6 separate regions of the Homo sapiens genome follow, and all the other regions are linked to region 4. Evidence: fine-mapped expression QTL. A gene starts in region 4. Each other region holds a variant in brackets. All regions are shown on one strand. Distances are from middle to middle.

What was found. PIP is the estimated chance that this variant, and not a neighbour inherited with it, causes the effect.
Region 1: its variant is fine-mapped to the expression of TP53I3 in monocytes (TOPMed, PIP above 0.99). The same link has a PIP of 0.9 or more in prefrontal cortex.
Region 2: its variant is fine-mapped to the expression of TP53I3 in whole blood (TOPMed, PIP above 0.99).
Region 3: its variant is fine-mapped to the expression of TP53I3 in whole blood (TOPMed, PIP 0.99).
Region 5: its variant is fine-mapped to the expression of TP53I3 in whole blood (INTERVAL, PIP 0.93).
Region 6: its variant is fine-mapped to the expression of TP53I3 in coronary artery (GTEx, PIP 0.99).

The regions. Positions count from the first base shown.
Region 1 is chr2:24,061,599-24,066,864 of GRCh38, forward strand. FKBP1B (FKBP prolyl isomerase 1B) reads left to right here. Exons shown (of 4, transcript NM_004116.5): 4 at 1,466-2,083. The coding sequence ends at 1,594. Among named protein-coding and RNA genes, the nearest start is that of SF3B6, 12 kb to the right of the region's middle. The variant G/A (reference allele first, on the strand shown) is at 3,130.
Region 2 is chr2:24,012,079-24,017,344 of GRCh38, forward strand. It overlaps MFSD2B (MFSD2 lysolipid transporter B, sphingolipid), which reads left to right. Exons shown (of 14, transcript NM_001346880.2): 2 at 1,207-1,332; 3 at 4,078-4,202; 4 at 4,767-4,890; 5 at 5,208-5,266. Among named protein-coding and RNA genes, the nearest start is that of MFSD2B, 4.6 kb to the left of the region's middle. RefSeq lists enhancers at 3,993-4,548, 4,549-5,104. The variant T/C (reference allele first, on the strand shown) is at 2,232.
Region 3 is chr2:24,121,761-24,127,026 of GRCh38, forward strand. PFN4 (profilin family member 4) reads right to left here and starts at 1,574. Exons shown (of 5, transcript NM_199346.3): 1 at 1,358-1,574; 2 at 659-787. The coding sequence starts at 775. FAM228B (family with sequence similarity 228 member B) reads left to right here and starts at 1,709. Exons shown (of 11, transcript NM_001145710.2): 1 at 1,709-1,773; 2 at 2,570-2,700. The coding sequence starts at 2,602. RefSeq lists a silencer at 1,641-2,140 and an enhancer at 2,211-2,460. The variant A/C (reference allele first, on the strand shown) is at 2,463.
Region 4 is chr2:24,082,501-24,087,619 of GRCh38, forward strand. TP53I3 (tumor protein p53 inducible protein 3) reads right to left here and starts at 2,334. Exons shown (of 5, transcript NM_004881.5): 1 at 1,689-2,334; 2 at 385-652. The coding sequence starts at 1,826. It also overlaps a transcript of FAM228B not described here. RefSeq lists enhancers at 46-976, 1,572-1,671, 1,822-1,871, 2,619-3,119 and a silencer at 1,882-2,061.
Region 5 is chr2:23,817,514-23,822,779 of GRCh38, forward strand. It overlaps ATAD2B (ATPase family AAA domain containing 2B), which reads right to left. Exons shown (of 28, transcript NM_017552.4): 17 at 2,234-2,369. Among named protein-coding and RNA genes, the nearest start is that of ATAD2B, 110 kb to the right of the region's middle. The variant T/A (reference allele first, on the strand shown) is at 2,459.
Region 6 is chr2:23,089,110-23,094,375 of GRCh38, forward strand. It overlaps LOC107985792 (a long non-coding RNA gene), which reads right to left. Exons shown (of 9, transcript NR_171639.1): 2 at 1,638-1,739. Among named protein-coding and RNA genes, the nearest start is that of KLHL29, 290 kb to the right of the region's middle. The variant T/G (reference allele first, on the strand shown) is at 3,008.

The DNA.
Region 1 (5,266 bases), 21 kb before region 4:
GAAATAGTACAGAGTTCTTCTATATTCTATCCAGCTTCCCCTTCTTGCATAACCATAGTACAATTATCAAAACCAGGACATTCACACTGATACAAATTACTTACTTATTCAAATTTTTGATTATTCAAAATTCAAAAGTAGATTTAAATTTCACCAATTGTCCCACTAATGCTGAGTGGGTTCTCAACAACTGCTGTGATGAGCCCTGGTTCAAGCTGTTCTTTCTTGGTCTGTCTGTGAAGTCCTATGATGCTCCCTTACGATAGGTCTTGTTTTTGGTGTTTTTTTTTAGAAAGAGTATCACTCTGTCACCAAGGCTGGACTGCAGTGGCGCAATCTTGGCTCACTGCAAGCTCCGCGTCCTGGGTTCACGCCATTCTTCTGCCTCAGCCTCCCTAGTAGCTGGGACTACAGGCGCCCGCCACCACGGCCGGCTAATTTTTTTGTATTTTTAGTAGAGACGGGGTTTCACCGTTGTTAGCCAAGATGGTCTCGGTCTCCTGACCTCGTGATCTGCCCGCCTCAGCCTCCCAAAGTGGTGCGAGCCACCGTGCCCGGCCTGTTTTTTGTTTTTTATTTATTTATTTATTTTGAGACGTAGTCTCACTCTGTTGCCCAGGCTAGAGTGCAGTGGCACAATCTCAGCTCACTGCAACCTCCTCCTCCCAGGTTCAAGCAATTTTCCTGCCCCAGCCTCCCGAGTAGCTGAGATTACAGGTGTGCACCATCACCATCACGCCTGGCTAATTTTTGTATTTTTAGTACAGACGGGGTCTCACCATGTTTGCCAGGCTGCTCTCGAACTCCTGACCTCAGGTGATCCACCTGCCTCGGCCTCCCAAAGTGCTGAGATTACAGGTGTGAGCCACCACGCCCGGACTTTTTGTATTTTTTAGTAGAGACAGGGTTTTGCCATATTAGCCAGGCTGGTCTTGAACTTCTGGACTCAAGTGATCTGCCCACCTTGGCTTCCCAAAAGTGCTGGGATTACAGGTGTGAGCCACCACGGTTGGCCACAATAGGTCCCCCTTGCCACCTTGCTGGTGACTCTAGTCTCTAAACCACTTTAAATAACTGCCCCTGTCACCTACTTGAGTATTTACGTGTGCTATTCATACACCCTCTTTTCCTAAAGAGGCCTATTCTTTGGAAGAGGGTGAACTATGAACAAATGGAAGTGTTTCAGTCATACACAAATTGAATAACCAGTAATGTTTGTCAGATGCATGAATTTGAGACCACTCTGTGAGGGTTACTGCCCCACAGTCACATCTCTGCTGAGGCAGAATCTGCGTTTGTTAAAGCTGTTAGCACGATTTCAATGTATCCCATGTAAAATTCATCTGAGATCTTCAGAGTTAACATTGAGGATGGTTTGGGAAAATGCCATAGTCATCTAACTTTTTTCTTTTAAATCAAGCTGGGTCCTCTTTCTCCTCTCCCCATCTGCCCCCATCCCTGCTAGATGAGCTTGGGGCAGAGGGCGAAGCTGACCTGCACCCCTGATGTGGCATATGGAGCCACGGGCCACCCCGGTGTCATCCCTCCCAATGCCACCCTCATCTTTGACGTGGAGCTGCTCAACTTAGAGTGAAGGCAGGAAGGAACTCAAGGTGGCTGGAGATGGCTGCTGCTCACCCTCCTAGCCTGCTCTGCCACTGGGACGGCTCCTGCTTTTGGGGCTCTTGATCAGTGTGCTAACCTCACTGCCTCATGGCATCATCCATTCTCTCTGCCCAAGTTGCTCTGTATGTGTTCGTCAGTGTTCATGCGAATTCTTGCTTGAGGAAACTTCGGTTGCAGATTGAAGCATTTCAGGTTGTGCATTTTGTGTGATGCATGTAGTAGCCTTTCCTGATGACAGAACACAGATCTCTTGTTCGCACAATCTACACTGCCTTACCTTCACTTAAACCACACACACAAGGTGCTCAGACATGAAATGTACATGGCGTACCGTACACAGAGGGACTTGAGCCAGTTACCTTTGCTGTCACTTTCTCTCTTATAAATTCTGTTAGCTGCTCACTTAAACAATGTCCTCTTTGAGAAAATGTAAAATAAAGGCTCTGTGCTTGACAAACTCCTGTCCATCCTTATTTTAGGTAGGAAGTGCTCTAAGGACCACACAAGCCAGGTGCCCTTGGGAAAGAGTGGAAAGAAAGGAGGGTTCCAAGTGGCTAGGTGAGTGATAAATATAATAGCTACAATGTGAGCATTTTACATGCTGGGCCTTGTTCTACATACTTTTTTATTTTATTTATTTATTTATTTATTTGAGATGGAGTCTCGCTCTGTCACTCAGGCTGGAATGCAGTGGCACAATCTTGGCTCACTGCAACCTCCGCCTCCTGGGTTCAAACGATTGTCATGCTCACCAGCACGCCTGGCTAATTTTTGTATTTTTAGTAGAGACAGGGTTTTGTCATATTGGCCAGGCTGGTCTCAAAACTCCTGACCTCAACTGATCTACCTGCCTTGGCCTCTCAAAGTGATGGGATTACAGGTGTGAGCCACTGTGCCTGGCTATATACTTTTAAATTATTACCATTGATCCTCTAAGCAACCCTGCACAGTAGATATTACCTGCCGCTCATCTCAGGCTCAGAATCCTCCTCTGCATAACTAAAGAAATATAGGCTCCAAATCTTGTAGCCTAGCAATCAGATGTGGGACTTGAGCACCTTATGTGCTCTTGCAATCTTTGTTTGGACTACAGCCAGAGGGATGAGCTCCACTCACCCAGATGGATACAGAACACTTTTTGTGTCTAAACAAATGAAGGTGTGTTAAGGGCTTGAAGTCGTACACTAACTCACATTGGGAAGTTCCTTGTGAAAAGAGTGTGTGATTCTGAGCTTGTTTTCACATACACTGCTTAGTTTCACCTAGATTTGTTCTGACTTACATTGAGGAATTACTTTTGAGAAGAATGTATGATTCTGAACTTGTTTCCACATATAGTGCTTATTTCATCAACATTTATTGTAACTAACCAGAAACACCAGTTAGGTTTTAAAATCAGCACACTTATTGGTGTAGGTTATATATAGGCCATAGGAGACTGAGGCAATATACTCAAACATTTTTCTTTTTTTTCTTTCTTTTTTTGAGACGGAGTCTCACTCT[G/A]TTGCCCAGGCTGAAGTGCAGTGGCATGATCTCGGCTCACTGCAAGCTCTGCCTCCCGGGTTCACACCATTCTTCTGCCTCAGCCTCCCGAGTAGCTGGGACTACAGGTGCCCACCACCACACCTGGCTAATTTTTTGTATTTTTAGTAGAGACGGAGTTTCACCATGTTAGCCAGGATGGTCTCAATCTCCTGACCTTATGATCCGCCTGCCTCGGCCTCCCAAAATGCTAGCATTACAGGTGTGAGCCATCACGCCCAGCCTCAAACATTTTTCTTTCAGTTGGTATAGGATGAGAAAAACTCCTGGCCATAGTTGGGGTTATTCTTTTTTTTTTTTAATCATTTATTTATTATTTTTAAAAAATAGAGATGGGGGAATCTCACTATGTTGCCCAGGCTGGTCTCAAACTCCTGGCCTCAAGCTATCTTCTCTCAGCCTCCCAAAGTGTTGGGATTATGGGTTTAAATCACTGCACTCAGCCAATACGGTTTTCTATCAGTGACGACTTCGAATTGTTTCAAGATTGAGGACGGAGGGGCTGATAACAGGTACTGTTAGTGTTCCTCATAGACCCACTGATACATGTCACATGATGTCATATATATGCTATGAGGCCATGTCATCTTGGCTACATGATCTACCTTTTTTGTCTCCAAGAAATCCTGGCTGTATTCCTTTGCTGAGGGTGGAGGAGCTAATGAAGAAGCAGTGCTTTAGGATGGAGAAAACGAGAGAAAGGAACTGCCTTGCATTTTAGTCACCAAAGTCCCTGTGCTCACCTCTATTGTGAGACTAGACCAGCCAGAGGGTATTTCCTTCAGAATGTCTTGGTTCCTGGCTTTCTTTGATGACTCAAATGCCTACAATAATTTCTCAGAAGTCAGCCTGCATAAAAGACATACGCATATTTTCTGCTGTGACACCAATAAGATAACAAAAGATGGCATCAAGGACTATTTCAGGTGCCCACTATGGGGCATATAAAAGATATTGGTCTAGAGTATTTATAACTGAGGTGGGTCAAAGGAGACACCCACTAAAAGAACTCCCCCAAAGTGCAAACACATACTGGCTAGCACCTGGAGAGGACAGGTGAGGCTCTGCAGGTAAACTGGGAAATGAACCATTTTACTGGAGCTCTTAAAAGATGATGCAGAAAATCATGATGCAGTATGCTAATGAGTCTGGACATTGGCCTATGAGAGCCACTAAAGCTGTTAAACAGAAGAGCAATAATAAGATCAAGGTCACATCAGTTGTTTTCAGACTTTCAGTCAATGAATTCTCTATTCCTACGAATTTTTTTCTTAGAAACTCAAAAATTTAACCCAGATGAAAGTAAAGCAGCTCTGGCACATGTGTGTGCACATATAAACACAGTCATCTGTTGCACTCTTAAAAGCATTTGAAAAATTGAGCTTTGGATGCCTTGCACAGAGGACCGATCATAATTATATCCTCAGCATCTTCGTACAGTACTGTGTGCAGAGTGGGAGTCAGTGTTTGTCCACTGAGTGCAAGTTCTTGTAACTTAATTGCGACAGGATATGGAATTTCCAAACAATTAGAGGGAAGTTTTAAGTCTTAACTTTAGGTCATGAAATTCAGCTAACAGATATATCAATCCAAATGATGGACTGGTCATGACTGCTAATAGAAGGAATTTCTCCTTGTTATTAAAACAACTACACCAGAGGCAAGCTAGCCTGCCACTTAGACAAATCACACTCTAAGTTTTAAAGTCTAATTTCAGTTTTTCTCTTACAAGAAAGTCTTTTAGAAAATTCTTTTTACATTACCTAAAGGCACACCGTGCATTACAAAAACTAATAATGCATTCATAAAAGCATTCAAAAGAAAATTACAGCTGTAGCTCCTTTCTTATCTTCCCACCCTTAGAAATGACTCTACTCTCTTACACTGCTTTCAAAAAACACTCAGATATAATTAAAAGCAGAATTGATGCTCTTTGTACATTGAAGTGATTCAGTGTATGTACCTTCAAATTGATTTTAGGTTCCAATCACACACAAAACAATTAGTCCATGTTTTTCCATTTGGTCCATGCCTAAGCAATAAAAAGCAAATTACGGCTATATTCTCCCAAGCTGCCATGATGATGAATGGGGTAATA
Region 2 (5,266 bases), 70 kb before region 4:
TGGAGTTTTATTCAAACTGCAATGGTATTGACTGAATACCATGGATCTGGAAACAAACAAACAAACAAACAAAACACACACACACACACACACACACACACAAAAACAGACAAAAAAACCCTGCAATAGCAAGCCATTGGAGAGTTTTAATCAGAGAGGAGATGGGATCTGATTATTTATTTATTTATTTATGACTGAGTCTCTGTCACCCAGGCTGGAGTGCAGTGGTGTGATATTTGCTCACTGCAACCTCTGCCTCCCTGGTTCAAGCAATTCTCTTGCCTCAGCCTCCTGAGTAGCTGGGATTACAGGCGGCCACTATGCCTGGCTAATTTTTGTGTTTCTAGTAGAGATGGGGTTTTGCCATGTTGGGCAGGCTGGTCTTCAACTCCTGGGCTCAAGCAATCCACCTACCTCGGCCTCCCAAAGTGCTGGGTTTATAGGGATGAGCCACTGTGCGATTTATGTTATTACAAGAGCACTGGCTGCTGGGTGGAGTGGATTGTAGGGAGCAAGGGCAGACACAGAAGCCACTTAGGAGGCATTCACTGATAGACAAGAACTGGAAAGAAGAATAGATGACTCCTAAGTTTGTGGCCTGAGCCACTGAGGGGACCAGCGGTGCCATTTGCTAGGAGCTGGATTAGACAATGGAATGGCCATCAGGAGCTGTATGTAGACCATGCTAAGCTGAGACGCCTGCCAGGCATCCCTGGAGGGCTGTGGGTAGGCAGGCTATGGGTAAATGAGCTATCGCCTCATTTACTCATCGAAGAAACAACTTTGTGAAGTTGGCAGGGATGTTGCATTTGACAGATGAGGAAAACAGGCTTAGAGAGATGATGTGATTTATTCAAGGTCACATAGAGGGGTAGGTGACAAAGGCAGGCTCAAGCCCAGGTCTCCTGACCTGCAGCTTACACGGCCGTGCTGACTCAGTAAATGATGGCGGCTTCAGCAGGAAGCCCAGGGTAAGATGTCCAGAAGAACTTCCCCCCTGGAAATGTTTAGAGGTCAGGGTTTAGGATCTTTTTTCTCTTCGTCTCACTTCCTCTTAGGATGACATGGGGGCAAAATGGGGCTGAGAGGTTGCTGGAAAAGCCCTGAAGACATCACAGAGACTCAGGATGTTTACTGAAGTCATGGGGTGTGGGGACCTGTTTTGTGTCTGTTGGGAGAAGGGCTTAGTTCCTGTGTCTCCTCCAGGACAGCAGAGCCGGTCGCCTCTCATTCTGTACAAAGGTGTGCTATGGCATTGGTGGGGTCCCCAACCAGATAGCCTCCAGCGCCACAGCCTTTTACCTGCAGCTTTTCCTGCTTGATATAGCACAGGTAAGTGTGGGCAGTAGCCCAGTCTCTGCTGGCATCTTCCTTGGGGTCTGGTCCTTCCACCCCCACCTCTGCTTCTGCTCCCACTATCCTTGTAGACAGCACTTCTGACACGAGCTCAACAAAAAGCCAGAAGCCAATGAGGGCAAGGTACTCAAGAATGTTTACTGCAGCCTGTTTGTAGTGGGAAAATGAGAAACAATGTAGATCCCCGACAATATAGAAGCAGTTGGCTAAGTAAGCTGTATCATAGCCACATAATAGACCAAGCCTGTCCAACCCGCGGCGGGACGGCTTTGAATGCGGCCCCACACAAATTTGTAAACTTTCTTAAAACAGTATGAATTTTTTTGTTTTTTTTTTTTTTTAGCTCATTAGCTATCATTAGTGTTAGTGTATTTTATGTGTTTATATGTGGCCCAAGACGATTCTTTTTTTTTTTTTTTTTTTGAGACAGAGTCTCACTCTGTTGCCCAGGCTGGAGTGCAGTGGTGTGATCTTGGGGCTCACTGCAACCTCTGCCTCCCAGGTTCAAGCGATTCTCATGCCTCAGCCTCCCGAGTAGCTGGGATCACAGGTGCACACCACCACACTCGGCTAATTTGTTGTTTGTTTTTTTTTTTGAGATGGAGTCTCGCTCTGTCACCCAGGCTGGAGTGCAATGGCATGATCTCGGCTCACTGCAACCTCTGCCTCCCGGGTTTAGCAATTCTCCTGCCTCAGCCTCCAGAGTAGCTGGGATTACAGGTGTGTGCCATCATGCCTGGCTAATTTTTTGTATTTTTAGTAGAGACAACAGTTTCACCATGCTGGCCAGGCTGGTCTTGAACTCCTGACCTCGTGATCCACCCACCTCAGCCTCCCAAAGTGCTGGGATTATAGACGTGGACCACCGCGCCCAG[T/C]CTACAGCTAATTTTTGTGTTTTTAGTAGAGACGGGGTTTCGCCATGTTGGCCAGGCTGGTCTCGAACTCCTGATCTCAGGTGTTCCATCCACCACAGCTTCCCAAAGTGCTGGGATTACAGGCGTGAGCCACCGTGCCTGGCCAAGACAATTCTTCTTCTTCCAGTGTGGCCCACAGAAGTCAACAGACTACACTAACATCACTATCAAATAGACTATCATGCAGCCATTCAAAATAATGATCTATACCAGTTGACTTAGAGTGATTTCCATGATGCTCTGGTGAAAAAGAAAAGTTAGTTTTAGAGAAGAGTATATAAAATGATCCCATTTTAACAAAACAAAGACAGGCTCCATATGTGTGTGTGTGGATGGATATGTATATATACATATGTATCTGTCCATGTTTAAAATGTGAGCATGGAGAAAATTCTAGAAGGATATACACCAACTCGTTAATGTTGGCTACCGGAGGGAATGATGGAGAATGGAGGGTAAGTAAAACCAAATTTTTAAAATGAGGTATCCAGCCGAGCATGGTGGCTCACAGCTGTAATCCCAGCACTTTGCGAGGCCGAGGAGGGAGGATCACTTGAGGTCAGGAGTTCAAGACCAGCTTGACCAATATGGTGAACCCCATTTCTACTAAATATACAAAAATTAGCCAGGCGTGGTGGCACACGCCTGTAGTCACAGCTACTCAGGAAGCTGAGGCAGGATAATTGCTTGAACCCAGGAGGTGGAGGTTGCAGTGAGCTAAGATTGCACCACCACATTCCAGCCTGGGCGACAGAGCAAGACTCCCTCTCAAAAACAAAACAAAAACCAACAACAAAAAAATGAGGTATCCAGCCGGGTATGGTGGCTCACACACCCAGCACTTTGGGAGGTCAAGGCGGGAGGACCGTCTAAGCTCAGGTGTTCAAGACCAGCCTGGGCAACATGGCAAAACTCCACCTCCACAAAAAAAAAAAAAATTTAAAAATACAAAAATTAGCTCGGTGTAGAGGAACGTGCCTGTGGTCTCAGCTACTTGGGAGGCTGAGGTGGGAGAATCACCTGAGCCCAAGAGGCAGTGGTTGCAGTGAGCCGAGATGGTGCCACTGCACTCCAGCCTGGGCAACAGAGCGAGGCCCTGTCTCAATTAAAAAATAAAATAAAATAATAAAATGAGGTATCCACGAATGTTTAAGATGACAGTCTGATATGATCCCATTTATATAAACTGATCAATCTCAAGCACACATGAAGAAGCCTATGAAAGGCTGATCATCCAAACGATTCTGGCAGTTGTCTTGGGATGCTGCGATTTCAGATGAGCTTTGCTTAGTATTTTCCTGCATAGTTTGAGTGTTTTTCTAATAAGTGTATTATTTACATAGTCAGAAAAAACAATGCATCCTTTCCATTGTGAAACACAGTGTCCACCTCTGTCAGCCCAGAGGCACCCTCCTTGCTCTGAGCCAGAATGTTTTTCTAATGAGTGTATTATTTACATAGTCAGAAAAACCAGTGAATCCTTTCCATTGTGAAACACAGTGTCCACCTCTGTCAGCCCAGAGGCACCCTCCTTGCTCTGAGCCAGCCCCAGATGAGGGCCCTGGAGTCCTCTCCGCAGTGGCTGACATGAGTACTAATGGGAGTGTGCAGGGCGGCAGCACTCAGCTCCCTCCCCTGGACTCAGCCCCGGGATCAGCATCCTGGGGAAGGCTGAGGAGCCCTTGACACTGTGGCTCTGCCCTCCGGTCCCGGTTCCCAGGCCTCCCTCTTGATGGCAAGCAGGCCTGGATGGGCTCTCTGCTGCTGCTGGGCCTCAGCTCTCTATCCCCTCCCCTGTCTGTTTCAGATCCCTGCCGCCCAGGTGTCACTTGTTCTGTTTGGGGGAAAAGTGTCTGGGGCGGCTGCTGACCCTGTGGCTGGGTTCTTCATCAACAGGAGCCAGAGGACAGGGTCTGGACGGCTCATGCCTTGGTGAGCAACCGCTCAGTCCTTAGGATCCAGGCACCTGGTCCTGGCCCTGAGGTCACTGTTTGTCACAGCCCTATTTCCTAGCAGAAACCCACTGGGTGGTTAGGAGACAAGACTGGATAATATCGCAGGTGCACTGGGGACTGACTGTGAGTGATAAGGAGTTCAGAGACATTCTTGGGGACTCTCCCTCCCCAGATGGCACGGGGCTGGATGAAGCCTCCAAGACTCCCAGGCCTGGCCTGGGGCACTGAGTGTGGGAAGGCTGGGCTGAAGGCCATGCGAGGCCTCACGGAGGAAGTACAGCTCAGTGTCCCAATGTCCACACAGGGAAGGGCACCAGCAGCGCTGAGAGTGCAGCTGGAGCTCCCACGAGGAGTGGCCGCCCATTCCCCACTGCCTCCATGACCCATCGGCCACTTCTCCCCTGCTCCTGGCTCCCACCCAGGGCGCCCCAGCCTAGGGATTCTCAAGGGGCAGAGAAGGGGTGGGGTTCCTCCAGGCTGGGCCCTTTGTGTTCCCCTGTCTGGGTCGGGGGGCCGCTCCACCTCGGCTGTGCTTCCGCAGGGTGCTGGGCTGCACCCCCTTCATCGCCCTGGCCTACTTCTTCCTGTGGTTCCTGCCCCCCTTCACCAGCCTGCGAGGCCTCTGGTACACGACTTTCTACTGCCTGTTCCAGGCCCTGGCCACGGTAAGCAGGGCCCCTTCCTGGGCCTGTGCTCTGGCGAAGCCCATTGCTGGCCATGGCCACTCTGAAGTGTGCTGTGGGGGCAGGGCTGCCGCCCTCCCCACCCGCCTGTGCCTGGACCATGCCATTGGCACTCGCCAGCCTTGCGCGGGACTGGCTGCCCCCTCCTGCCTTTGGGACCCTAGCTCCGACTTCAGGTGGCCAGCTGGGATATGTCACGTTGGCCTGTGGGTGTCGGGATGTGACACCCAGGATGGGGGAGGTCGCCCGCTGTCACCAGGCAAAGCTGGGGGCGGTTCTAAGCTCTGCCGACGCCCCAGTTCTTCCAGGTGCCCTACACAGCGCTCACCATGCTGCTGACTCCCTGCCCAAGGGAGCG
Region 3 (5,266 bases), 39 kb after region 4:
AGAAAGAGCCTGGCACCTCTCCACTTGCTCTCTCTTGCTTCCTCTCCCCCACTGTGATCTCTGCACATGCTGGCTCCCCTTCACCTCTGCCATGAGTGGAAGCAGCCTGAGGCTTTCACAGATGACCAGTCTTCCAGGCAGTAGAACTGTGAGCCAAATAAACCTCTTTTCTTTATAAATTACCCAGCTTCAGGTATTCCTTTATATCAACAGTAAAAAGACTAAGCCTAGAAACCTAAAATATTTATGTAGCTCTTTACAGAAAAAGTTCATTTAAAAGTCATGTCTGGGCTGGGCACGGTGGCTCATGCCTGTAATCCCAGCACTTTGGGAGGCCGAGGCAGGTGGATCACCTGAGGTTAGGAGTTTGAGACTAGCCTGACCAACATGGTAAAACACCATCTCTACTAAAAATACAAAAATTAGCCGGGCCTGGTAGCGCACTCCTGTAATCCCAGCTACTCGGGAGGCTAAGGCTCAAGAATCGCTTGAGAGGCGGAGGTTGCAGTGAGCTGAGATCATGCCATTGCATCCCAGGCTAAGCAACAAGAGTGAAATTCCGTCTCAAAAAAAAAAAAAAGTCATGTCTGCTTCATTTTTTGGAAGAATAGAAATAATAAGTAAATCAAGTCTTAGGTCCAAACTTGTTTTTTCTTACATTGAAACCTGGTGATGCTACACACAAGCTCCGCTCCTGGATTTTGATGAGGGCTGCACTGTCCACATGCTTGGTTCCCAAGAGGGTGTCTAACAATAAGCTCTGCAAATGGCTCATGTTCCCTCAACTCTGAAAGGGAAAGTGCAGTTGAAGCCATTGACTCTGGCTAGCTTTTAAAAGGCATGTGAATACAAATGTCCTTAAGACACTGCAGACAGTTCTAAGATCAGCAAGTGTACTTTGAAAAGGTACAGGGTGAAAACGGTGGTCCATCATTCAGGGCCCACCAGTACCCAAAGAGGAAAACAGAATCATAGAAAAATCACAGCTCACACAGAATAGGTTATGAAGCTGAGTTTGGAAAATCACAGCCTGGTGATTTTCTGGCTATGTCAATGGTTTACATCAGGATTATCTGCGATTTAAAAACAAACATTACACACTGAGAAAAACTCTGTAAAATAAAAAATAAAAACAAAAAACAAAACCCAGCCAGGATGGAGAGCTACCCTGCTAAGTTAAACACGACTAAAAGAGATTATGCGTGGCCATAAACCCACACATTCCCTTCCCGGTGACCTGCATCAGCGCCAGCTATGAACGCTGATCAACATCCCAATGGACTAAAAACACCTTGAAGGCACTTAAACCCACATTTCCCGCACAAGTCCCCAAGCCTTGGACCCCCCTCATCAGGACCTCCGGCACAGGCGCCCGTTTCCCGCCACTGCCTTCCAGTGGTTTGGTCCCCGAGCAGGACCCAAGGCGGGGCAGGGGGTGGTGAGCGGTGAATTCCCTGGCACCGAGGACTCGAGGGAGCGGACGCCACCCCGCTCTGTGGTGCCCGCAAGGACCCGGCGACCAAGGACCCGACCGTCAACGGACGCGGTTGCGGGTGGGTGGCGGCGGCAGGATTGGCCGGGCCACGCGCCGGTCACCGAGAAGCAGCGACTCCAGCCCCTTCCGCAAACCAAGACCCGCCACCTAGAGCCGCCGCCCAATCCCCTTTGGGCCTGAAGCCGTCCTCCGCCGCCCCGGCACCGCCCGCGCGGACTCGCTGTGGAACCCGCGGCGCAGGGGGCGGAGTGCTCGCGCGGCGCTGCGTCCGGGAGACGGTGGGCGCCAACATTCGCGCGTTCCGCAGACGCGGGCGGGCTCCCTTCCAGCCGCAGTCGGACGGCTCCGGGGTCGTCGGGCCGGGCCCGAGTGTGTAGCAGGACGGCCGCGGGCCTGCTGGCCTTGGGAGGGCAGAGAGGTGCCTGTCGCGGCCGGCGACCTCCCCGCCAGGCCGGGCGGTCCCCGCGCACGACGCGCCTGCGCGGGAGGCCCCCGGCCCGGGGCTGGCGTGGAGGCCGCAGGCGCCCGGCCTAGTGGGTGGGAGGAAGGGCCGGGAGTGGGCGCGATGAGCGAGAGCGGGTGCGGACGCCTACGACATCCCCGTCGCACCCGTGCCTCGGGGAGGACTTCGAGCCGCTCAGAGCTCGAAGACTCGCGCAGTATGACCGAAAGCCCCTCCCTGCCTTCTCTAAGCAGCTCAGCCTGTGTTTCTGTGGCCAGAAAGTTGCAGTTCTTCCCACTCGAGGCCACCAAAGTCAGAAAAGTGTTGCAAATGGGACTCCGAGAGGCCAGGCTGAAGCTGCCACACTGGCTGGAATGGGCTGCCTTGGAGGGGGACGTGGGAATCCATTCCAAGGGACGGGGGATTCTTTCAAAGAGCATCTCGCCTGCTTATAAAGGAGGCTGGCTCTGAAGCCGTCATCTGGAGTCTGTAGTGAAGGCCTCTTGTTAGGGAAACTGGATGGTT[A/C]GTGTTCAAAATCCATTTTGCGTGTGTGCAAGGACACAGGTGGTATTAAACAGAAGAGAAAATCAGATGACTGTGAAATGTTCAATACTAAATAAGATGATTTTTAGTTTTTCCAGGGGCATTGTTATTTGTGACCACAATGAAAAATGTAGACAGTGATGATCTGGTAACTGGCACACTTCCCAAGCTCAAGAGCTCAAAAGAATGGTTGGAGCCCAAGCCCCTTTGTTTTATGGAGGTATATATCAAATAGTGTGGGATTTGGAGATTTTTTTACTTGGATCGTTGCAGTAGGAAGTGGCTTGTGCTAAATATATTGTTTTTTCTATTGTTTGTTTTTATTTCATTCTGTTTATTATTCCCTTCACTTTACTAACTTTGTATATTCACTTTGCTGTTTTTTTCTAACATCTTAAGGTGGAATCATAGGTCATTGATTATATACCTTTTAAAATGTAACATAGCTATAAGTTTCTCTTGAGGTACTGCCTTAGCTGCATCACCCAAATTTTGATATGATGTATTTATTTATTTATTTATATTTGAGACAGGGTCTTGCTATGTTTCCTCCTGGAATCAAGCCATCCTTCCACTCCCTAGTAGCTGGAAGTATAGGCGCACGCCACCATGTCTGGCTAATTTTTGTATTTTCTGTAGAGATACAAAAAATCTCTACACTGTGTCGCCTAGGCTGGTCCCCAACTCCTGAGCTCAAGCAATCCACCTACCGTGGTGTTCCAAAATGCTGGGATTATAGCTGTGAGCCCTTGCGCCCAGCCAGTTATATTGTTTTTAGATTGTAGTTTCTTTTTTCTAAACAGCTTTATTAAGATGTAATTGATATACAGTAAACTGCATATATTTAAAGTGTGTGTCTGGCACTGTGCCTCATGCCTGTAATCCCAGCACGTTGGGAGGCTGAGGTGGGAGGGTCGCTTGAGCCCAGGAGTTCTATCTAGACCAGGCAGAGCAATATACTGAGACCCTGTCTCCACAAACGAACGAACAATAATAGCCAGGTGTGGTAGCATACACCTATAGTCCCAGCTGCTTGAGAGGCTGAGGCAGGAGGATTGCTTGACCCCAGGAATTTGAGGCTGCAGTGAGCTGTGATTGTGCCACTGCATCCCCACCTGGGTGACAGAATAAGACCCTGTCTCAAATAAAGTGTACAAACTTGGTAAGTTTTGACATGTATACACACGAAAACATCACCACAATCAAGATGGTGGACATATTCAGTACTCCCAAAGCTTCCTTAATATTCTGTTGTAATCCCTCCCTCACATCCCCCCACCACTGCTTTTCTTTCTTTCTCTTTCTTTCATTCTTTCTCTCTCTTTCCTTTTCTTTTTCTTTTCTTTCTTTCGCTCTATCACTCAGCCAGGAAAACACTGGCGTGATCTCGGCTCAATGCAACCTCTACCTCCCGGGTTCAAGTGATCCTCCTACCTCAGCCTCCTGAGTAGCTAGGATTACAGGCCTGCGCCACCACACCTGGCTAATTTTTTTGGATTTTTAGTAGAGACGGGGTTTCACCATGTTGGCCAGGCTGGTCTCAAACTCCTGACCTCAAGTGATCTGCCCGCCTCGGCCTCCCAAAGTGCTGAGATTATAGGTGTGAGCCACTGCGCCCAGCCTGCTTTGCTTTCTGTCACTCTAGTTTGCATTTTAAAAATTGTATACAAATGGAATCTTACAGTATATATTTCTTTTCCTTCTGTTTGTCTTCTTTCACTCATCATAATTATTTTGCCACTCACCCATGTTGTATGTATCAATACTTCATTCCTTTTTTGGTTGAATGCTATTCCCTTATCTGGATATATCCCAATTTGTTCATCCTGTTTATGGACATTTGGGTTGATTCCAGTTTGGGGCTATTACAAATAAAGCTGTTATGAACATTCATGTGTGTGTCTTTGTATGGACGTATGCTTTCATTTCTCTTGGGTAGATATTTAGTTGTGGAGTGACTGGGTCATATGGTAAATGAATTTAACTTTATGAAGCTGCCAAACTAGTTTCCAAAGTCATTGAATTATTTTACATTCCCACTAGTAGTGTGTGAGAGTTCCAGTTGTTTCATAATCTAGCCAACATTTGGAATAGTTTTATTTATACTGATTTATTGTATGGCCTTTTTAACTCAAGACATTTTAAAAAGATGTATAGTGACATCTCATTGTGGTTTTAATTTGCATTTCCTTAATGACTGATTATGAGCATCTTTTCAAGTCTTACTTGCCATTTATCTATCTTCTTTGGCAAAGTGTTTGTTCAAATCTTTTGCCCACTTTAAAATTGGCAATTTTAAGTTGGGTTGTTTGTATTCTTACTGTTGGACTCTTCCTATTGAGATATAATTTACATGCCATAAGATTCACTACTTTTTTTTTTTTTTTTGAGACAGAGTCTTGCTCTGTCGCCCAGACTGGAACGCAGTGGCGTGATCTCAGCTCACTGCAAACTCTGCCTCCCCGGTTCACGCCATTCTCCTGCCTCAGCCTCCCAAGTAGCTGGGACTACAGGTGCCTGCCACCACACCTGGCTAATTTTTGTTTTTGTATTTTTACAAAAAAAAAGTAGAGAGGGGTTTCACCACGTTAGCCAGGATGGTCTCGATCTCCTGACTTCATGATCTGCCCGCCTCGGCCTCCCAAAGTGCTGGGATTACAGGCGTGAGCCACCGGGCGCCCGGCCAAGATTCACTACTCTAAAGTGTACAATTCAGTGTTTTTTATTTTTTTTTAAATTCAGAATTTTTATTTTCAGTGTTTTTTAGTATATTCACAAATCCGTGC
Region 4 (5,119 bases):
GACCAAGTCTTCTTAGATTCCCTTATGTGAGTTCTTGACTGGCCTCTGTGGGATTGAGGAGGAATAAATGAGTCAATTGGTCCCTTCTGTTGCACTGGGACCCCAGAGAGAAGCTCAGTATGATTCTAAGAAGCTGGGACTTCTGCTGGGCGTCCGGTGTTAACATGTACATAGGCCTCCTATCTAGTGTTATCCAGACCCTCTATCTGCTAACCATGATTCTCAGCCTCAACATTAAACCCTTCTAACATGGTTTGAGGACCTGACAATACAGGTGATACAGGAAGGCCTGGGAGTGCCCTGGGGGATTGCTGGGATTCAAGTTGGCTGATTTATGAAGGTGTTGAGCCACATTGTGTGGAGTGAGCATGGAGGCCTCCTCACCCACAAGATGTAACAGCTGGAAGGCGGTGAGCCAGGCCTCTGGGATGGCTGCAGCCTGGGTCAGGGTCAATCCCTCTGGGATAGGCATGAGGAGCCCTTCGGGGACAGTGACGTACTGAGCCTGGCCCCCACCGGGGAGCAGAGCCATGGCTGTGTCCCCGATCTTCCAGTGTCCCTGGCAGCCAGGCCCCAGCTCTGCCACATGTCCAGATGCCTCAAGTCCCAAAATGTTGCTGGCTCCTGGAGGTGGGTCATACTGGCCTTGTCTCTGCAGAGAAAGAAGTGCACTAAGTGGTGAGCATGATCAGAAATCTGTATGTCACTACCCCTGGCCCCCCTTCCAAGATCCCCTCTTTTTTTTTTCAAAAATAAATTTCAGAATGAAGTCAGGTTTTTGTAAGTAAGGAGAAGAAAAAGGAGAGGCCATTAGTTTTATGCAAATAAACTGGAGGTCACATGATCAGTGGATGTTATAACTGGTAGAGTCCTTAGCTATTTACCTCATCTGAACCCCTTGCTTTACAGATGGAGAAACTGAGTCCCAGACGGGAAATAATAGTAGTGGGATTAGGAACCTTGACGATGGTTCCCATGCATCAAGCGCTAGGCTCTGTGCTCACTCACCCCAGTCCTCAGAAGCTGTAGAGCAGAGGGACTTAACCAGGAGTGTGTGGCAGAACCACCTGAGGAGTATTTCAAAGTACACGTGCCTGGGCCCCCATCACGTTTCTTTTGTGCCCCGGGGGATTCTGATGCACATTTCTGAATGACCCCAACCAATGCAGCTGGCCCAGGTCAGTAAATCAGCATCAGACAGAAGAAAATTCTTAAGAGTACTGCCCGCTGTCAGCTCCGGGACTCTCAGAGTGGAAAGAGTTAAGAGGTCTTTGGAGCCACAAAGACCTCAGCTTGAATCCCAGCTCTTCTGATTGCTAGTGTCACGGCCTTGGGCGTACTGCTTAACCTCACTGAACTTCAGTTTCCTTATCTGTAGAATTAAGATGGCGAACAGGGTAGCCTGGGGAGTAAGTGTGCCCACACCCCACAACAATGTTAGTTCCGCCCTCATCTGGAGGCCTGAGTGGCTATGGATTAGCTCGGGGTGGATTCTGCTTTACAAGTACTCCCCCTTGTTTTGCATGAACAAAGAGGGCGCCCTGGGTTTAGGTCTGGGAAGCCCCAGCGCAGCTGCCTGCTGGGTGTGGAGCGGTGCACGCCTTCACGTCTGGTCAATGTCCACTGAGTGCTGTTGAGAGGGAGGCTCTGGAGTCCCGCCCGCCCCGGCGCGGCTGAGCCCTGGGTACCTGCATTAAGTCCGCCCGGTTCAGGGCGCTGGCCGCCACCTTCAGGAGGACTTCACCCTCCCCCGGGCTCGGCTTGGCCACCTCCTTCACGTAGAGGTTTTCCGGTCCTCCCGGCTTGTCAAAGTGCACGGCTAACATATTGTCTGAGGACACAGGGCAGGGCAGGGCAGGACAGGACAGGGCAGGGCAGGGCAGGACAGGACAGGGCAGGGCAGGACAGGACAGGGCAGGGGCCGCTGTATCCTCGCGGAGCAGCCCAGCCTCAGGCTGGCACCGCAGCGCCCCCTGCCGGCCAGCGCCTCGCTGCCCTGGTCTGCCGCGGACCCGGCCTCCGCCCCGAGCTCCTGCCTGGGAAGTCCTCGGCCGCCTCCAGACCGATCCCACCCGGAACACAGATGGGAACGGCGGGAAGTGGGATGGCGGTACAGGGCTGGATGCGGCAGAGCAGGACAACGCCGAAGAGGATCAGGCAAATCACACTCCCTCTGAGTTGGAAGCCCCCAGCCCGACCCGGGTCCCCGGCGCCCGTATGAGTTACTTACTCCTGGCCCGGCTCCCCTCCCATGCACCAGGCGGCGCCGAGTGGTTCTGGCTCCTGCGGGTCCCGGTGACAAAGCCCGAGCCCCAGAGCCCCAGGACTGCCTCTGCCTCCACCGGAATGGACGGCTGGACCTGGGGTAGCCGGAGGGGTGGGGCTAAGCAGAACCACCCTCCCCCTCTTTCCTTTCCTCCTTCCCCCTTTAAAACGCAAAGTTAGAAGCAAGCAAATCAGATTTTCTTGTCCTTTTAGCCTCTGGAAAAGAGTCTTTCTCTCAGCTTGACAGAAAGTGCGATTCTAGCTCTCACTTCAAGGAGAGGAAACTTCCTTCTCTCTAGGGAACGAGACCCAACCTCTTGGCGGGCGGATTGGTCCATTTTCCAGGCATGGCCAGGCTTTTGGCACATTTATGTAACAGGCTGGCATCCCGCCCATCTTGAGCATGGGTGGGCAAGCTGGGTGCTGCTAAGAGAAGAGAAAGGAGCCGTTGGGAGTGGGGGTGGGGAAGGAAGGCAAAACGCAGTCCTGGGATCCTTATCACTCGCCTCCTCCTGACAGTCCTGGGGGAGAGGTTCAGCCCCAGGAGAAGGATGCTGGCGATTGGGTAAAAGCTGTATCCGTAAGCTACATGAAGGTTTCTCAATCTCGGCGCTATTGACATTTTGGACTAGCTAGTTCGTTATTGTAGGAGATCGTCCTGTGCATCGTAGGATGTTTAGCAGCATCCCTGGCCTCCCCCCACTACATATCCGTAGCACTCCTTGTAAATTCCTGTTTTAGTAAGAACCTCCCATCCTTGACATCTGATCACCCTCAATATCTCATCCTCCACCATCCCCCAAGTGATATCCGACCACCCTGGCCTGTCTTCAGTGAGAATCCTGTTAGGTCAGTTTAGATAGAATCCCCCTTACCCCTGATGCCTCTTACCAATTTTCCATCCACTGACCCCCTACACTGCTCCTTGGCTATACATTCCCACTTGTCCGTGATGCATTCAGAGTTGATCCCAACCTGTCTCCTCCACTGCAAGAACTCATTGCAGTGGTCCCTAAACCTGTAGCGATGGTGCTAAATAAAGTCTTCCTTAATGTGCTTTAACAAGTATCATTGAATAATTATTTCTTTAACACAACAGAGCAAAAGCCTATAGAGATGGAAATAATAAAATGATGGGACTTAAGGAAAAATTCAGGAGACCCTGCTATGAGAATAACAGGAATTTTAGGCCGGGCGCGGTGGCTCACGCCTGTAATCCCAGAACTTTGGGAGGCCAAGGCGGGCGGATCACGAGGTCAGGAGATCGAGACCATCCTGGCTAACACGGTGAAACCCCGTCTCTACTAAAAATACAAAAAATTAGCCGGGCGTGGTGGCGGGCGCCTGTAGTCCCAGCTATTCGGGAGGCTGAGGCAGGAGAATGGCGTGAACCCGGGAGGGGGAGCTTGCAGTGAGCCGAGATCGCACCACTGCACTCCAGCCTGGACGACAGAGTGAGACTCCGTCTCAAAAAAAAAAAAAAAAAAGGAATTTTAGAAGGAGGAAGAGGAATGGATGAAGAAGATTCAATAGTTAACCAAATAAAAGAATACAGTTTTCCTAAATTCTACCAGATTATACGGATTGAAAACATTCACTAAAGGATGGATTCATAAGAACAAAAATGCATGCCTATATTTTATAAAATTTCAGGTTCTAACAAGTGTGGAAAGAATAAGTTACTCACAATTGGTTAAAAAAAATGGCTTCCTTCTCTCCCTCCCTCCCTCCTTCCTTCCTTCCCTCCTTCCCCACCCCCTCTTTCTCTCTCTCTCTTTTTTGTAGTGTAGGGGTCTCATTATGTTGCCCAGGCTGGTCTCAAACTCCTGGACTCAAGCAATCCTCCTGCCTCAGCCTCCCAAAGTGCTAGGATTACAAGTATGAGCCACTGTGCCCAGCAAGTTTCTATCTGCAATCTGGAAGCTAGAAGAGAGTAGACTAGCGTCTATTGACTAGAAGAAAAGCACTGTAACTCAATATACCCCATTAAGATATAATTCACTTGTTAGGGCAAAAAACATGTCTGAGGATGTATAAGGATTCAGAGACACATCATCCGGATACACATCTGTCCAAAATCGAGGAAAGGTTTGAACCAAATAAATATCCTAGAACAGAGACAGATGGAAAGGAAATAGTTGTAAATAACAAACTTTGCAAAAATCGACACTAAAACTGATTGGATTAAGAAAATGGAATGGATTAAGATAGATGAGGAATGTGTAATGTAAGTGCTAAATAAGAACTTTTAAGATGCAAGGAGTAACTTTAAAAAAAATCTAATAATACCAACCACTAAGTATACTAAAGTATCCCAGTAAAACTAGTAGTTGAAAGTGCCTAAGATTTTATCTTAGTGAGCCCTTGGTCGATGTAATCTTGCAGTGTGTAATAAGAAATATATATTTTTGGTCTTTGTCCTGGGTTCCTACAATAGCACTCCTAAAACCTTTGTTATTTGCTGAATAAACATCTCTTTCTTTCTTTTGTTTTTAACTAGATATACGGTCTTGCTACGTTGCCCAGGCTGATCATGAACTCCTGGACTCAAGCAATTCTCCCACCTCAGCCTGTAAAGTACTGGAATTATAGGCATGAGCCACTCTGCCTGGCCAATAAGTATCTTTTATTATATTTTGTTCTCCTGCAGAGCTCCTAAAACCCTTGGAATTTCGTATGTGATAGAAGTGACTTTTTATATTAATAACAAACCCTTATAAGCACACTCGAGTTTATGCTAATATGACTTAGGGTGGGGGCCCTAGATAGCTTCAGGATGAGCTGGTCACCAGAAAGACCCTGGGAAGGGGAAGCAGGGACTGGAGATTACACGCTATAAGAATTCTTTTTTGTT
Region 5 (5,266 bases), 260 kb before region 4:
AGCAGAATTAGTTCTGCTTTCACAGCACTTTCGCCATATTGAAATGTTTGTCACCCCCAACCATGAGACCTTCTCCAAAGTAAGAACTATGTTATATCTTATTCATGCTTATGTTTTCAGCATCTCATACAATGCCTGGCATAGGGTAAACAAAGAAAAATTGGACAAATGGGTAGGTGAATAAAGAAATAAGTGAATAATTATTATTAAAACATCTAAAAAATGCTTATTCTAGCATATAGCTGTCTCATTATTTAATCAAAGTCAAATGAATGAACTAGAAAAGCTTATGTAAAGGAAGCTAAAATTAAACCAATTCTTTCAGAAAAGCTAAAACAAAATGAGCCATACCAATGTTTCACATTAAATCAGTGGCAGGAAATGTCCTCAATAAAAAGTCAAACTTAACACTGTACATGATACTTTCTAATATCAAAATCTATTTCTGTATTCCTTTATTGACGACAATTATCTTATAAAATTAAACACGTCTTTTGATACTTACTTAGTTTCTGCTACTACATAATACAAATCCAAATAACTATAACTGTCAAACACACATAAACACACACACACACACATTACACACACACACACACACACACACATTACACACACACACACACACAGAGAGAGAGAAGGAGGGAGGGAAGAAGAGAGGGAGAGGGAGAGACGGAGGGAGGGAAGAAGAGAGGGAGAGGGAGGGAGGGAAGAAGAGAGGGAGGGAGGGAGGGAAGAAGAGAGGGAGACGGAGGGAGGGAGGGAAGAAGAGAGGGAGGGGGGAGAGAGAGAGAGAGAAAGAGAGAGAGACAGAGAGACACAGACGCACAGGCTAGCCAGGTGAAAAGCAAAAAAAAAAAAAAAAAAAAAAAAATTGGCTTTCCCATAACTATCAATAAAACAAATCTGTAAAATGCTGGAATAGCCTATAAAAAAACTTCCCCAAGAGCATAAAAGAAAGGATCTGGAGAAGAAGAAAAAAACTTACAAAGAGTTTGCTATTAAAGAACATATGAAGAAAAAAAGAGGAGATGAAAGTAATTTAGGCTCATTTTTAAAAATGAAAAACAAGAAAGGGTTATCAATGCAAATAATCAAATCAACATTTCACCAAAATCTACATGGGAAAACTTCAAGTTGGAGACTTAAATTTGTTCAAAATATTAAAAGTACACACAATCCGGCCTCTTCTAATAGAAGTGCTATTAGATCTACCTGACTGAAGCTTTATGGTCCTTCAACTATGGGGCTAATTATGTAAATGCAAGTAAAGATGCTGTTAGTATTTGAAAACTATTTGGCCTCTTAATTTAAAATTACATTTGCACTAAAAGTGTTTACCTATTATAGTGCACAGCAAAACTTGCTTTAACACAGATAATAAAAGGGTAAATGTAAATTGAAAAATCATAAAATCCAAATTATGCAAGTATAATGTTTCTAGAAAATCAAAAAGTTATTTAATTACTGAACAATTTCTAAATCGAAATCTCTTTAGCAGCCTTAGAGACCTAAATGATCATCTAAAGTTTATTACAAATTAAAGTATTCCAGATCATGGCAAATATTTCATTTCTGCCCATTTTAGTTTAAAGAAAAAGCAATAAAGTTGGGGCTCATGAGTTGACTTTCTAAGGGTAAGCTTTCCTCTGCCTCCATGGGGGAAAAAATTTACACCATTACTTTAAAAAAAAGTAAACTTAGCCAGGTACAGTGGCATACGCCTATAATCCCAGCACTTCGGGAGTCCAAAGCGGGAAGAGCACCTGAGATTCGAGACCAGCCTGGACAACATAGTGAAACCCCATCTCTACTAAAAATGCAAAAATTAGCTGGGCGTGGTAGCGCACACCTGTAATCCCAACTACTCAGGAGGCTGAGGTACGAGAATAGCTTAAACTCAGGAGGCAGAGGTTGCAGTGAGCCAAGATCATGCCACTGCACTCTACCCTGGGTGACAGAGTGAGACTCTGCCTCCCAAAAAAAAAAAAAAAAGTAAAGTAGCAGGAAAGATTCTTCTACTTGGAGAAAAAAACACCTAGGTAGTTAACCAACAAACTAACTATTACCACATGAAAAAGAATACATAGTAAAAGTTTTCCAGAATTGTGTCCAAACAACAGAAAAACAATATCCTCACAGTTATAACCATAAGTAAAAATATACCATAATTCTAATCATAAAGTATCAAAAATCACTCTAAATACAAAGAAAGTTGATATAAATCACTCACATTGTAAAATGAAGGTAGGGTTTATGTATAGCAGCAGATGATGACTGTTTCTTTGGTGATCCTGAGTGACAATTGGTCTCAAAAATTGATAAAGCATTTTCATCTTCACTATCCTCTAAAATTAAAGTTTCTATATCTGTTTAAAAAAATCACAATGGTTATGGGGCTTATAAAGTCATTTAATATTCGTGCCCTACCAAAGCTAAGAAAAATTGGGTTAAAAAA[T/A]CAAATGACATTAATAAGTTATCTATCAAATAATACAGGCAAACTGACAAACTGCAGCTTTTAAAATAACTTATAAACAAAATTAATATAACACTTTCACCTTTACAGACTATTTACTTAAGTGTTATGAGATATAATTTGGAAGAACTCACTGACTGGCTTAAAAAAAAAAAACAAGTCTGGAAAAGATGTGGCACTCTCATAAAATCCCACCTATTTAACTAAAAATCTCTGAGTTAATTTTGACCAAAACCAGTCCATTTCATATTTGGTTTAATTAGTAGGTTAGCTGAGTCAAGGCCAGTTCTTATAAAAGCAACAAGGAACAAACTGACCCTTATTTTTTAAAGAGGATACACCTTTTCAAAGAAGTCTTAGTGTAGTTAAGATGGAGTCAGAAATTCCGTCAAAGCTAATCTTAAAAATACACTCATTCATACAGCATTATTCTCTCTGTGGGCCTTAGGTTATCACTCAGGGAACTAACTGGAACTAAAATCTCTACTGAGAATGCAACACTTAAAGCCTTACCTGGACTACCACCTGAAGTATGAACAGCTGTTGCTATACTTCAAACATGCCTAATTAAAACTGACAATTCATTCAATAAAAAGCAATGCTACATGTGTACGGGATATGAGAGAGAATTAAGATTAAGAGAAATCATATCCTTTCAAAATAAAAAATATACAGATGCATTCTAAAATGAGATGCTAAATTATGCTAGCAGATAGAGATCTCAAGTGGCTTTTAAAAGCTAAACATTTAATCGAGACCATCCTGGCTAACATGGTGAAACTCTTGTCTCTACTAAAAATACAAAAAAATTAGCCGGGCGTGGTGGCAGGCGCCTCGTAGTCCCAGCTACTCGGGAGGCTGAGGCAGAAGAATGGTGTGAACCCAGGAGGCGGAGCTTGCAGTGAGCCAAGATTGCGCCACTGCACTCCAGCCTTGGTGACAGAGCCAGACTCCGTCTCAAAACAAAAAAAAAGCTAAATATTTAGTACAAGTCATAGTTTAATCTGGGAAATAACTGAGTATCTTTTGAGTGATAATTTCATACACAAGGAAATATTTATCTAAGAAAAATATTAAAGGTCAAAACAAGCCAGAATAAATATGACTAAATAGCTAAAAACCAATTATTGATAATCAAATAAAATTTGGTTGCTCTTCTCCACTGGTTCATGGCAACTAGTTCTACCAACTGGAACTAAAGCATACTTTATATTTACACACAAAAAAAGCTATAAGAAAACATAGATAATAATGCTATAAAATGGTAATTCACAAATGGAGATAAAAAGCTATGATAATCTCTCCAAAGGAAAGATGAGGTTTTTATGATTTTCTAAAGGTGACGTAAGTTTTTTGGGACGTTTTGGTACATAACATATATATGAAATACATTTCCAGTTATGAAATTCAGAAATAAAAAATACACAAATCATGGCATCGTGCCTGGCTCACAGATATTCAGTAAAATATTCATTCCCCTCTGTCTGCCAAATTTAAGAAATCAGGTATTCCATGTGGTATCTTATGTGAGTCTGTCACTAAACAATTAAAGTTTCTGAAAAATATATTTATGACAGAAGAATTCATTGAACAATATTCATAATTTTTACTATATATATTTTTAATGTTAGTATAATTCTCTGAATAATTTTCTATTTGGTGCAGACTGCATTCCAGACAAGGTGCTAGGAACTGCAGAAATTAAGATAATCAAAAGACATTACTTTCCCTTCAAAGTTTATGAGCTTTATACTCTGATTAGAATGTCAATGTAATTTTTAAATGTTTTTCCTGTAAATGAGTGATGTTTTAAATTTTATTTATTTATTTTTGTTTTTAATTTTTTAAGAGACAGGGTTTCACCATGTTGGCCAGGCTGGTCTTGAACTCCTGACCTCAGGTGATCCACCCGCCTTGGCCTCCCAAAACGCTGGGATTACACAGGCGTGAGCAACCGCACCCAGCCATGAGTGATGTTTTTAAAGGTAGTTTTCTGTTTTTATCTCAGGTGCAAAGTACAATCTGAGGCTTGACAAAACTCAAGATCCTCTAAAATGAGGTTCTTATTTACTCCCTTACCAATACCTTACACTCCTATGAGCACTGCACACTGCAGAGTGTCCTACCAATAACAACAAAATGATTAGTTTAATCCAAAGAAGCATTATAGCAACATAGGTAAGAGCAAGGGCTGTCATCAGGCTCCCTGGGTTGAGGCAGTCCCCAGAACTTATTGAATGACCTTATATTAATTAAATTACCAGGCTGGGCGCGATGACTCACATCTCTAATCCCAGCACTTTGGGAGGTCAAGGCGGGTGGATCACCTGAGGTCAGGAGTTGGAGACCAGCCTGATCAATATGGTGAAACCCCATCTCTACTAAACAAACAAACAAATACAAAAATTAGCTGGGCGTGGCGGCACACGCCTGTAATCCCAGCTACTTGGGAGGCTGAGGCAGGAGAACTGCTTGAACCTGGGAGGCAGAGGTTACAGTGAGCCAAGATCAGGCCACTGCATTCCAACCTAGGTGACAGAGTGAGACTCTGTCTCAAAAAAAATAAATTACCAGCCTACATCTCCCACTCCCCTGCTCTATATAATCAGAGTGCTTACCTGCAAGCCTGTTAAGAGGATTAACAGGCCGGGCGGGGTGGCTCACGCCTGTAATCCCAGCACTTTGGGAGGCCAAGGTGGGAAGATCACCTGAGGTCAGAAGTTGGAAACCAGCCTGGCCAACATGGTGAAACCCTATCTCTACTAAAAATACAAAAAAATTAGCCGGGCG
Region 6 (5,266 bases), 990 kb before region 4:
AATGCCTTTAATAACATCCAAGTCACCTCTCGAATGCTTTGCTGTCTAGAAATTTCTTACGCCAGATACCTTAAATCATCTCTCTCAAGTTCTAAGTTCCTCAAATCTCTAGGGCAGGGGCAAAATGCTGCCAGTCTTTTTGCTAAAACATAACAAGAGTTCTACTTTTCAACAAGTTCCTCATTTCCATCTGAGTCCACCTCAGCCTGGACCTTATTGTCCATATCATTATCAGCATTTTGGTCAAAACCATTCAACAAGTCTCTAGGAAGTTCAAAACTTTTCTGCATTTTCCTGCCTTCTTCTGAGCTCTCCAAACTGTTCCAGCCTCTGCCTGTTACCCAGTTCCAAAGTCACTTCCACATTTTGGGGTACCTTTTCAGTAGCACTCCACTCCCAGTACCAATTTACTGTATTAGTCCATTTTCACACTGCTGATAAAGACACCCAAGACTGGGCAATTTACAAAAGAGAGGGGTTTAATGGACTTACAGTTCCACATGGTTGGGGAGACCTCACAATCAAGGCAGAAGGCAAGGAGGAGCAAGTCACATCTTACATGGATGGCAGCAGGCAAAGAGAGAGAGAGCTTGTGAAGGGAAACCAGTTTTTAAAACTATCAGATCTCATGAGTCTATTCACTATCACGAGAATAGCAGAGGAAAGACCTGCCCCCATGATTCAGTTATCTCCCTCTGGGTTTCTCCCACAACATGTGGTAATTATGGGAGTTACAAGATGAGATTTGGGTGGGGACACAGAGCCAAACCATATCAAGGTTGAAGCTGACTTTCATATAATCTTGCCTGAGGCTCCATATGATGTGCATATATGCGTCTTGTGTGCAAGTGCATATGCATGTTGAGAGAGGGAGAAGAGTGGAGGGGAAAGAAGAGGAGGAGAGAGGAGGGGAGACATTATGGTTAATATTGAGTGTCAACTTGATTGGATTGAAGGATTCAAACTATTGTTCCTGGGTGTGTCTGTGAGAGTGATGCCAAAGGAGATTAACATTTGAGTCAGTGTACTAGGAGAGGCAGACCCACCCTCAGTCTGGTTGGGCACCATCTAATCAGCTGCCAGTGTGACTAGAATAAAGCATACAGGAGAAGATGGAAGAGCAGACTTGCTGAGTCTTCTGGGCTTCATCTTTCTCCCACACTGAATGCTTTCAGCCCTAAAACATCAGACTCCAAGTTCTTCAGCTTTTGGATTCTTGGACTTATGCCAGTGGTTTGCCAGGGGCTCTCAGGCCTTTGGCCACAAACTGAAGGCTGCATTGTCAGCTTCCGTACTTTTGAGACTTGGACTGGCTTCCTTGCTCCTCAGCTTGCAGGTGGCCTACTGTGGGACTTCACCTTGTGATCCTGTGAGTCAGTACTCCTTAATAAACTCCTTTTCATATATACATCTATCTTATTAGTTCTGTCCCTCTAGAGAACCCTGACTAACACAAAAAGGCAGAGGAGAGGAGAGCAAAGGGGAGGGGAGGAGGAGAGGGGAGGGGAGAAGAGGGGAGGGGAGAGGAAAGAGGAGGAGAGAAAGAGGAAAGAGGAGGGAAAACAGGAAATGGAGTAAAGGATCCCCTCATATCCCACAGAACTTCCCTTAACCTCGTGGCTCCTCAGCCCACTCACCTGCATAGAATCCTGTTTCATCAGCATCAGAAGGTGAAGATTGAAATCATATAGGCTCAATTTCTTTATGTATTCAGTGATAGCAGCTCCCAGAAAAGAAACCTAAACAGAAGTGAAATATTAATTCTCCCACAAGTACAGGTGTCTCTTGGCACAAATTTAGCATGAACACCATCACCAGATGCACCCCCATTGCTGAGGATCCGAGGACTTTGGTCCAGGTTTGGATGCTGGATCCTAGGAAGACATGGCTGAATCTGTAAATAGAAAATCACAAATCAAGAGATTATTATCCAAAATTTGGATGACTAGGTGGGTTCATTTTGTATACCTGGAATTCTCACAGGACAATTTCATTAAAAAGAATAGCAACTATGGTGTTACTGTTGACTACTGTCAATTTTTTTTTATTATAAAAACACATCAAGACCTGATTATTCATCTGGAGTGATAAATAAATAAATAAATAAATAAATAAATAATTAAATAAATAAATAAAACTTTGAATGATACCCCTTCAGTCACACCACAAGGCCCAAAGTCTGCAGCCTGGCACTCAAAGCTACCAAGATAAATCTCTAACCTACCTTCCCAGTCTCATCTCTCAATACTTGTACATAATGTTTCTTCTACTTCAAAGTACTTGGTATTTTTTCATGATCAATCTCCTGTGATTTCCTACTGCCTTGTGGTTCACACCATACCTTTCAGCTAGAGACCCACTTCCTTTCCATTTGTCCATGACCAAGTTATACCCCTGCCTCAAGGCCCATCTCAAATGCAACCTCCTTTCTGAAGATATCTCCTTTCAGCCCCCAACAGAGCAATATCTCACTCCTCCTGTAAACCCCATATGTAGACAGTAATTCATCAAACTTGATAGTATAAATAATAAAAACTTACAGTAAACTCATCTAACAAATATTAAATCCCAATTATTTGCCAGACACAATATTAAATACTTAATATTTATTGATTCACTTAATTAATGATTTTCATATATGTTTTGTGTTCCCCAATGCCTGATGGCAGCCTTTAGTCTAAATCATATTTCTCTGCTATAATCCTTAACATTATGCCTAGATACAGTAAATTATCAATAAATGCTTATTGAGTATAAATTAATTAATGTACAATATGTGAATATATAAATGAATGAATGAAGCAAAAGGATGCCTGTTTAGAGGCACAATTTCCAAGACCATTAGGCAGAGCTTCTGGATTTCTATGCATATTATATGAGTTCTTTTCCATTCTCAATAAGATTCTAGAGTCTCATATAGCAAATCACAACAAGCCTGCAGCTACGATGTGTGGATGGTGAGCCTTTTGCATAGGATCATGAAGAGGACTCCTAGCGTTTAATTCTC[T/G]AAATTACACTCACCCCTTCAACAAACCAGAAAACAGTATAGCAATCTTTTATCCTTTCTTTCCTGGCCCACTCTCCCTAGCTCTAGCACCCAGAACTTTTACGTTTTTCTGTCCCACAGTAAGTGACGAACTAATTCAAACATACACAGGTGTACAAGAAAATAAATCCTCTTCCAAGGGTGCTATAAGTCTTTGAGGTCAATGCTTAATGCAAAGGAATGGAGTGATTTCAAACATCAATGAGGAGAAAAGAAAGTATAACCAGAATTATTGCATGGCTAGTCCCTGTCCAACTTTCTACATATATTATCTCATGTAATTTTTACAGTAATTTTATTAATTATAGTGATGATAATGTAGCACTTACTGTATGCCATATACTCTCCTAAGAATTTTTCATGTAATATCCCACTTAAGTCTCCCATCAACATTTTGAATAAAGTACCCCTTTCACCTTCTTAAGAGATGAGAAAACAGCCATAGAAAATTTAAGTAACTTGTCCAAGATCCCAAAGTAAAGAGTAGACCCAGAATGTAAACCCAACTTAGAAGTACACTCTACATCTTCTCAGGGTAGTAGTTTCCCAAACATATCTGTACAGCAGAAGTTGGTTCTCAGAAAGTTTACCAGGCACAAAGTCATGTACCTAGGAAACATAAATACTGGAATTCAAATCTTAATATTTTTATTTCGATGTGAATGCTTTTTAGTAAAACTTATTTCAGCTCAGGTGTTCATTCAGGGCAGCAAAGGTGTCCTGTATAGGGCTTCTCAACTCATAAGACCATTCCTGAGAATAAAAGTAATCATTTTGTGTGCTACTAAAACTTCCCCAGGCAGGGTTTTGCTTCATGCATCCCTGCCCCTAATCTCCTCTATCCATGGTGCTGAATTTAAAGACAGCATAGCTGGCCTAAAGAAAGAACTGACAAAATAATCTGAATCTCTATGGTAAAGGATCTTAAATACGGCTCTGCACCTGGCCATTGAGAACCAGTGAAATCTTTTCCAAACCTCCCGCTTTAAGCCCAGAATCTCTTTTCTGTCTTCCAAGATCATTAAGTTGAAAAGGGTAAAATAAGTGAGGCTTACGATTAACAAGGATTGTTCAAACCAATATCTTTTCAACTTCATAATTACAAAGATTATGTTATCTGAAAATAAATCAATGAAAGGAGAGCAAGAGAAAGTCTATCTCATAAACATCAATGCAGATCTAACAAAAGTTCAAACAAAAAAAGGAATCAGAGACTAGAGACCCTGAAGCAGGTTCGAAGCTACAGCACTGGGCCAATGGAGGGTGTGAGGCTAGTGCTGAGAACAAAGGCTTGAGACAGAGAATGTCTTTATATCTGGTGCTGAATTGATTTTCAAGCCATAAAAATGTTAGTTAAGGTAACACTGACATGAACTAGGGCAGGGTGGGGGGAAAAGAAGTTGGAAAAAGCAACTGCAATTTCAGGCTTATGAGAAATGGAATTAAAGTTAAGAGAAGGAAGGAAATCTATTGTTTGTCCAGTAACTGGCAAACAGAACAGCCACTGCATCATTATAGTGGCAACGACCTGCTGTGTTCATTTGTCTCTGAGCTGTCTGACCTAGGAGCTGGATGATTTATCTACTTTCCACAGCTTCAGCTGGGCCAGGCCAAGAGGATAACTTGGAGAAAAGGGTGGAGGTGTGGGGGTGGTGACACTCAAGCACCAAGCCAATGAACTCCATATGTCTTGTATTAGAGGGCATGCTCATAAATCAGCCAATATCACACATTTATTTCACACCTACTATAAACAAATCTCTGTGCTAGAAGGCCTCTGGTCATACAAAGATTGAAAAGGGCAGAGCCATTGGCCTTGAAGAGCTTACAATCTAGTGGAAAATATTAAGCATGAAGAAAACTAATTAAAAGCGTATGCTAGATGATGGCTAGAGACAGCAAGAACTATCAGAATACAGAGGAGGACTGTTGACTTTCTTTGTCAGGTAAGGCTTCTGAGAGCAGGCAACACCTTAATTGAGCTTAAATAATAGGATATGCAGTCAGAAAAAAATGGGAGTAAGTGTTGCAGGATGATAATTCAATTAACAAAGCCTCAGAGGCAGGAGTGGGTCAATTATGTTTTGGTGGGAGCAATATTGCCTATCCTTCCCAAATTCCTAGATACAAGGTAGATAGTCTCCAGGCTCTCCATATTCAGGGAGAGAGTTGAGGCAGCAGGGAATGCTCAAGGATCTGTACATCACTTTTTCAAAAACT